Linked DNA regions of Homo sapiens: region 1 is linked to region 2. Evidence: fine-mapped expression QTL. A gene starts in region 2. The other region holds a variant in brackets. All regions are shown on one strand. Distances are between the middles of the regions.

Region 1 (4,000 bases), 180 kb after region 2:
CACCCGTGCACCCGGCCTCTTCCGGTCACTTCTAACCCTCCATTCCCACTGACAACCCCAGAGCCATCACAGGTAGTGGTCTGTATCAGCTCTGCCGTGATTTATAAAATGGGAAAATCCACTTTAAATAAAATCTGGGGTCACCAAGGTAGGGAGGGCATGAGCCTTCAGCTTCCCAGGGGCAGGGGTTCAGGGGTTCTCTCCAGCTGCTCTTCCAGCTCCTCCCCAGCTGCAGCCTCTGAAGCAAGTTGGGACCCTCACGGTCAGTGTTGAGGATGACTTTCTTATTTGTCATGCCCTGGGGCGCCTCTGGCCTTTTCACTACCTCCCTGGTTACCACGGCCAAGGCCATTCCGCCTCCTACCTCTCTCCTTTTCAGGACCATCTTGGCAAAGAACCAGTTTCCTCTCACCACTTCCCTGCTGCACAAGACCCTATACTAGTTCCTCACAGCCTGCGGAATCGACTCAAAGTCCCCATCAGACTCCAAGACCCTACACTGCAGCTTCACCCGATGGTACAGCCTCCCAGCCTACTCTCCTCCAGTCCCGCACCCTCAAAGTCTGGTTACCCACCCTAAGAGCAGCAGCAGCAGTTGGGAAATTTTCAGGCCCCCTTCCATTTCTACTGAGTCAGAACTCCAGGGGCAGGGCCCAGTGATCTGTTTGTCACAGCTCTCCGGGTGGTCCTGATGCAGCCTGGAGTTTGGCAACTGCTGCTCCAGCCACACTGACCTCCCCAGGGCTCCATGTCAGGAGTACATGCCCCTTCCAGCCTCCCCACTTCTCATGCTGTCCCCACCACATGCAGCACCCTCCCCTGTCTTCTCTGGCCAATCAAAGCTCCTTCCCTAGGGCTCCTCACACACACTCTGTAAACATCTTCAGACCAGGCATGGTGGCTCATGCCTGTAATCCCAGCACTTTGGGAGGCTGAGGCGGGTGGATCACCTGAGGTCAGGAGTTCGAGACCAGCCTGGCCAATATGGTGAAACCCTGTCTCTACTAAAAATACAAAAATTAGCCAAGCATGGTGGCACCTGTAAGCCCAGCTACTTGGGAGGCTGAGGCAGGAGAATTGCTTGAACCCAGGAGGCGGAGGTTGCAGTGAGCCAAGATCGCACCACTCACTGCACTCCAGCCTGGGCAACAGAGCAAGACTCCGTCTCAAAAATAAATAAATAAATACATAATCTTCAGCACAACAGAGAACTCGGTGAGCTAAGCACCAGGAAACACAGATGAGTGAGACATGCTCCTTGTCCCTGAGGAGCTCATGGAGGAGTGGGAAGGATGGCAGTGCCCAGAAGTCATATGTGATAAGTTTCCCAGCAGAGTCAGGGCAGGTAGCAAAGATGGCCTCAGGGAGAAAGCAGGAATGCGGGGAGCTCATAGCTATAGCCAGGTGCTAGACAGAGCCTAGCCCAGTGCTGGGCACATGGAGGACCCTGTGTCAGTCCCCGCTGACTGATGGAGCAATGACCCCAGGAGCCCTACAGCCCAGATCTCAGGTAAGTGTCCAGGTGTTGCCAAAGACTCCCTCCTTGACCAAACTTGAGTGGGGCACTTCTGAGCCCTCTTCTAGATTAAGCCTTGGCCTTGGGCTCTGTCCTTGGCCTGCTTAGTCCAGTTTTTTTGTTTTTTGTGGGTTGTTTTTTTTTTTGAGATGGAGTCTCGCTCTGTTGCCCAGGCTGGAGTGTATCTCAGCTTATTGCAACCAGGTTCAAG[C/T]GATTCTCCTGCCTCAGCCTCCCAAGTAGCTGGGATTATAGACACACACCACCACACCCGGCTAATTTTTGTATTTTTAGTAGAGATGGGGTTTCACCATGTTGGCCAGGCTGGTCTCAAACTCTTGACCTCAGGTGATCCACCCACCTTGGCCTCCCAAAGTACTGGGATTACAGGCATGAGCCACCGTGCCCGGCCTCAGCTCCACCTTTTATTGTCTGTCAGGCCTTGGAAGGATCATGCAACCTTCATGAGCCTTGGTTCTCCATTGGTAAAACTGGGATGACTACAGCTACATCCCAGGGCTGTTGTGGGGATGCAGGGACATGGCAGGGACAGTACCAGCCCTTCTGCAGGAATACAGGAAGTCCTCAGCATAAGCTGATGTTCTGATCCACAGGCCACCAAGAAAACAACAACGAGTCTTCTCTCTGGCAAGGAGTTTTACACGTTCCAAAGCACCTTCTCTAGTTCATCATTTGCCTTGATGCTGTGGAGTTCCCAGGGCATCGCCGGGCCCCAGAGCAACGGACACAGTGGACTACCAAAGATGAAGACTCTCTTCATCCATCCCACCCGGCTCCCGTGGGGAGAGACCCGGGGAAAGCCAAGAGGGGCTACGTGTCACAGAAAGGCTGTTCCTCTCCTTGTTCTCAGCAGTGACCTTTCCGCTCAGACACTGTCCTGAGAGCAGGAATCCTCCCCCACACCAGGGCTAAGCTCAGCCAGCCCTCCCTCTGAAGTCCTCCCTGCAGTGCCCAGAACTCACCAATAATCGAGAAGGAGCGTTTCTGGCAGCCCCCTGCCAGGAGGTAACTGCAGTATCCCGCAAAGCTGTACATGCTCCCATCAAAGGTGTTGACGAAGTCACTTCCGAAAAGGCTGCATCGGGCCGTGGATGACCTGCCGCGAGTTCCTTCTGCACAAAGGGTCCCTGGAGGGAGAGGCCACAGGTTGGGCTGGTGATCTCAGGGCACAACTGGGACCATCAGCTCAAACCTCTCTGGCCTCGTAGAAATTAGACTGCCTCTGATAGAAACTGGGCTGTGGGGAGGTATTTTCCATCCTAAATGAGACTAAAGCTGTTGCTTTCAGCTCCCAGATATGACCCCAGACTCACAGCAATAACTAAGGAACAGTTTTTCAGGAAATCCATTAGTTTCAATGACATTTACTTACTGATTTAAAATGTCATCATGTCCATTATTAAAAATTTGGGGCATACAGAAGAAAACAAAGAAGCTGGCCGGGCACAGTGGCTCACGCCTATAATCCCAGCACTTTGGGAGGCCGAGGTGGGCAGATCACCTGAGGTCAGGAATTCAAGACCAGCCTGCCCAACATGGCGAAACCCTGTCTCTACTAAAAATACAAAAACTAGCCGGGTGTAGTGGTGGGCGCCTGTAATCCCAGCTACTGGTGAGGCTGAGGCAGGAGAATCACTTGAGCCCAGGAGGCAGAGGTTGCAGGGAGCCAACATCATACCACTGCACTCTAGACTGGGCGACAGAGTGAGACTCTGTCTCGAAAAAAAAAAGAAAAAGAAAAAGAAAAGAAAAGACAAAGAAGTTAAAACCATCTGTAACCCAACATTCAGCGATGATTAGAGTTAACATTTCAATGTTCATCTTTCCATTTTGTTGTATAGCATATATACAGCTGTGGGTTTTTTATAAATTGGTGACCAACTTGTGCAAACTACCTATAACCTCTGTTTATTTCTCAATAGATTGTAAACAATTTGTCGTGCTAGTGTATATACTTCCAATATGCGGTTTTTAGTGGCTGCATTATATTTTGCATCTGAATGTCTATAGTATAGCCCTCTATTGTTAGGTTTCTAGCATTTTTCCATGTTTTAATATTATAGATAGATTGCAGTGAGCATCTTTGTACATAAATCTACTAGCATGTCTTGGGCATGTTAAATTTTAAACAGATCAGACTGTGTGCCTGACACATAGACTCTCTGAAGTGTGAACTCCTCCGGCGTCACAGGCTAACTCCTTCACTGACTATGGGTGTGTGTGTGTCGGCAGGTGGGGAAATACAGCAGTAAATCTCTAAGTGTTCTGGGTTCCCCGGCAAAAGACCCACCTAGTAGGAAGATGCAGAGAGTGTGACAAATGTGTATTTTTTTTCCCAGACTCACCTGTGGGCAGTAGCTGGATGCTGCTGACCTGAGAGATCTAAGTGGAAAGCGCCCAAGGTCAAAAGTCCCCTCCCGCCATTTGCAGACCCAGAATCTTAGCAAGGGAAGGGCAGCAGTATGA
Region 2 (4,520 bases):
AAGAAGTCAAAAATTTTACTAGATGTCGGCATGGATGTGATGAAAAGGGAACACTTTAACACTGCTGCTGAGAATGTAAACTAGTACAACCACTATAGAAAAACAGTATGGAGAGTCTTTAAAGAACTAAAAGTAGAACACCATTAGATCCAGCAATCCCACTACTGGGCATCTACCTAAAGAAAATGAAGTCATTATATAAAAAAGACACATGCACATGTATGTTTATAGCAGCTCAATTCACAATTGCAAAGATAGGGAACCAACTTAAATGCCCATTAACTAAAAAGTGAATAAAGAAAATGTGGGATGTCTGTGTTTGAGTGTGTGTTTGTGTGTGTGTGTGTGTGTGTGTGTGTGTGTGTGTGTAATACTACTCGGCCATGAAAAGAAACAAAATAAGTCTTTTGCAGCAAATTGGATGGAGCTAGAGGCCATTATTGTAAGTGAAGTAACTCAGGAATGGGTAACTAAATATCATATGTTCTCATTCATAAGTGGGAGTTATGCTATGAGGATGCAAAGACATAAGAATGATATCATGGACTTTGGGGACTCAGCGGGTAAGGGTGGGAGGAGGGATAAGGGATAAAAGATTACATACTGGGTACAATGTACACTGCTCGGGTGAGGAGGCACTAAAATCTCAGAATTCACCACCAAAGAACTTACCCATGTAACCAAAAGCAAAACCCCGTACCCTAAAAACTACTGACATTTTTAAAACAATTTTTAAACAATACAGATGGATTATACCGTGTACTAGAGACAATAACACCGTCCCTAGCAGCCAAATACCTGCTATGCATGTGCTCTAGCAACGTCATACATAGGGTGGGATGGGCTTCTCTCAGCCCACAGAATGGGTAGCTTTCCAGAAAATTAGGTCTTTGTTACAGAAAATTATAGACACACTCCCCAGTAGGCCCAAATGCCTCTCACCCTGCAGCCTTGCCCCACAATGGAAGATGAAGAGATGGCACACCTGGAAACTGGACTAGAACTTGAGGTGTGTGTTTGGATCCCACCCTTACCCCTCACACAGTCTCTACAGTCAACCAGCAGAGTGGCTCTGGTACCCACATAGAGGCAACTCAGACAGCAGAAGCAGTTGCTGGAAAGGATCGAATCAGGTGCTTGGCTCCGGAAATGACGGGTGCACGTTAAGACACACTGAGAGGAGCAAATGAGCCCTGGATGCCCAGCAGCTGAGCCAGGGTGACAGAGAGACTGGGCAGGGGCTCTGATGCCAGGTTCCAAGGACAAAGGCTCGGCAGGTGGAGGGCCAAGAGGACCACAGTCCTCTGGAAGCACCTTCACCTTGTCTAAGATCCTCCCTCCACCTGCCACCTGCCTTTGGGCTGAGACCCGACCTTGCTCAGTGGGACCTTCTGTCCCAGACGAGGTTCCACATGGTCCCGGGGTGGTATTTCTCCACATCTGCTCACAAAGTATCAGGACTGTGACTGACACCACCTCCCAGTGCACTCAGCTCATTGTTCATGCCAAAGGAGCGGGCACCTCCCTCTTCATGCCTGTCTCAAGAATTACCAGAAACACAACAGCCGACAAAGTCCCTGTCCCAGGCAAAGTCAGTCCTGCCCAAAAGCAATAAAATAACGTCTTTCTTCTCCATACTCCACCTCAATTTGCTTTTCTTCTAAGAAAAGTCCCTCGGGAAGGTATAGCTGTGTTTCCCTGCAGCCTGGGGTGTAAATGCCTGATCTTGGAACCCTTCCTGAATGCGGTTTTGGGTAAGACACTGGAAAAAACTTCTGAAACTGAGAGGCCACTCCAGGGATGCCAAAGTCAAATTTGCTCTGTCCTCAGCGGACCGTTGCTGAGTTAAACCCAGTCCGGCTGGTTGTTTACTTATTGTTTACTTACCTTCAGATGCTGTAGGCTAAACGTCCCCAGGACTTGTAACAAGGAGAGGCAACATCACAGAGGTGGGGATTGGTAACCAATCACAGAGAAGCGGCCGCCCAAACCTCTGTTGTCCTACCTTCCCTCTCCTTGAGTTAAAAAAAAAACAAAACAAAACAAAAAACAAAAAACGTCTCGGAAATTACATAGACGTCCCTCAGAGTCCCTACCCTGGAAAAACGGGGTCAACTTCCCGCACCACCCTGCCCAGGCTCCCTTGGGGGTCCCCAATCCCGAAGGGTGGGAGTTCGGATGCCGCCTCCTTCACTCCCTCCCTCCTACCACCTGTAGGAGACCAGGACCAGGTCCAGCCGGAAAACTCACCGCGCGGCCCGGGAGTCGCCATGATGTGGACGCAGACCCCGCCGGCCCGCGGCCGCGCGCTTCTGGGCAGGCTTATGCCGCCGCGGGGCTAATTCCATCGCGGCTCAGCTCCGTCCCGGCGCGCCCGCCCCTCGCCGGCTGCCGCCTCCTCCTCCCCCATCCCTCCCGGCCGCCGGCGCCGCGCAGCCACAGCCCAGCTCTCCCCGCTGCGCCCTGGGCGCCCGGGTGCTGGGAGCGGGGCGTCGAGAATGGAGCGCGGTCCCGCGGCCGGGTTGAGTCCAGGACACACTCGGGTCCGTGGGGCTGAGGGGCGAGACAGTAAACGCTCCCTGCTCCCCCAGAGCCGGGGCAACGCCCCACAACCTGCTTCGAGTGTAAAAATTCAGTCGGATTATCTCATGAACTGTCTGGCTGATTAGTTTCCAATCCTGCCAGCAAAACCTTCTTCCCGCCGCCCCAAAGGGTCATCCACTGCCCAAGAGTTAGCCCTGGGGCGGGAGTGGGGGCGAGCCCCTGGACGGCGGATCTCCCACACCTGTCTCCATACTAGGTGGAGACCAGCTGTCCTCACCTTCCCCTAGGTTAAGCAGAACAAAAGGGAGAAGAGGCAGGTAGTAAGTGCACAAGGGACCGCAAAACAGGAGGGGCTGCCAGAGGCAGGAGGAGGGGTCCATTTTACAAGAGCTCTCCCATGAGACGCTAGGAGGGTTAAGGAAGGTTGAGGGAGTAGATGATGGAAGCTCCATCCCCAGAGGGGAAGAGGAGTGCCATCTCCCCGGGACAGTTCACGGACCTGGGCAGGGGGATGGGAGGGAAGACCTCCAAAGGGCCCTTCTGCACGATGGAATCTGCAACTCCAAGATGCACAGAAGTAAAACAAGTTCATTAATACCATGGACCCCCAAAATGAAGAAGTACTATGTTAAGGTCAAGTATGCCATTTGTGATCACTGACCTTCAGGCATGAAGATTTTCTCTCCTATATTGATAAGGTAGGCTGGTCATGATAGATCCCACTTTATAGAGAAGGAGCCTGGGGAAGCAAAGGGGAGTAAGTGACACCACAGTCGAGGGCAGAGCAGAAGGAAAACCACAAGATGTGATGTCCCAACCCAGGCCTTTATTCCATCCACTGCAAGTACTACCAGCTAATGCTTCTACAGGACTTCCTCTCCACCCAACACCCTTCTCAGTGCTTTCCCTATGGTAGTTATTTTAATCCTAACAATAAGTATATGAGGCAATCACTGCAGTGTGCCCATTTTACAGATGAGAGAACTGCAGTGTTAAATGGCAAGTAACTTGCCTCTAAGAGGATCCTAGGATTCCAAAGCAGGCAGCCTGCCCTGGAGTCTGTGGCATAACACTCTGCTATTCTGCTCCTTTCTGTCCCTAACAACCCCTTTCTCCCTGTCTACTTCCAGGGACCGTTATCATGTCTTTTCAATCCCCAAACGATTGAAAAATGGTCACCATTGCTCTTTCATTCATTCCCTTTCTTCTTTCCCTCCAGCAGTTTCTTAGTGTCTATATACTCCTTCCTTGAGACTCCCCTTAAAACATCCACTTTGGGGCACTCTGTCTTGCCTGGTCTGAGGGTGAGTAAAAAAGAGGGTCCCTGAAACCAGGTACAGATAGTGCCTTTGGAATACCTGTAAATAAAAGAAGACTGCCGAGACACCGCTCCGCACACACTAGCCCCACAAGTTTCTCTTCTTGCATCCTTTTTACCCAGCTCTCTTCCATCGTTTTGGGTTTTTTTAAAATAATCAAAACATGCAGTTTTCCGATTCAGCTTTTTTCTTGACGGTAAAATGACATATCAGTAAACATGAGAAGTTCAAGCTAGCAAGACACAGGCAGTTGGAAAATCAACCACCTATGCTGCAGTGGTAGCCTAGCCTTCCTGCTGAATTTCTCCAGAGCTGATGCCTCCAATAACACCTTGTCCCCAGCTAGAGTGTTAGGCGATCAGTCAGAAGAGTGACAGTTAATTCCCTGTCCCTGGATCTGGTTTCCTACCAAGAGAGACCTTAGAGGCTACCCAAAGTTGGGAGTGGGGTGATGGATGGAGAGACAGTAACCTTTGAATTACTGAGTAGTTACATAAAACTTCTATCCATTCTTCCTTCCTTCTGCCCCACTAAACTCCCCACCAAGCCTACTCAGCATAATCTATGCCATTTTCCTGTAATGTGGCTTCTCTTAAGGTTAAGCTCAGGCAGTAACAGAAGTGGTGGGAACTTAAGGGTGCAGCAGTCACTGGTCCC

The links. PIP is the estimated chance that this variant, and not a neighbour inherited with it, causes the effect.
Region 1: its variant is the best candidate, but not a certain one, in a credible set for the expression of ANO2 in thyroid (GTEx, PIP 0.81).

What each region holds. Positions count from the first base shown.
Region 1 is chr12:6,118,678-6,122,677 of GRCh38, forward strand. It overlaps VWF (von Willebrand factor), which reads right to left. Exons shown (of 52, transcript NM_000552.5): 3 at 2,497-2,661. Among named protein-coding and RNA genes, the nearest start is that of VWF, 4.0 kb to the right of the region's middle. RefSeq lists a silencer at 226-520. The variant C/T (reference allele first, on the strand shown) is at 1,728.
Region 2 is chr12:5,942,946-5,947,465 of GRCh38, forward strand. ANO2 (anoctamin 2) reads right to left here and starts at 2,314. Exons shown (of 25, transcript NM_001364791.2): 1 at 2,251-2,314. The coding sequence starts at 2,272.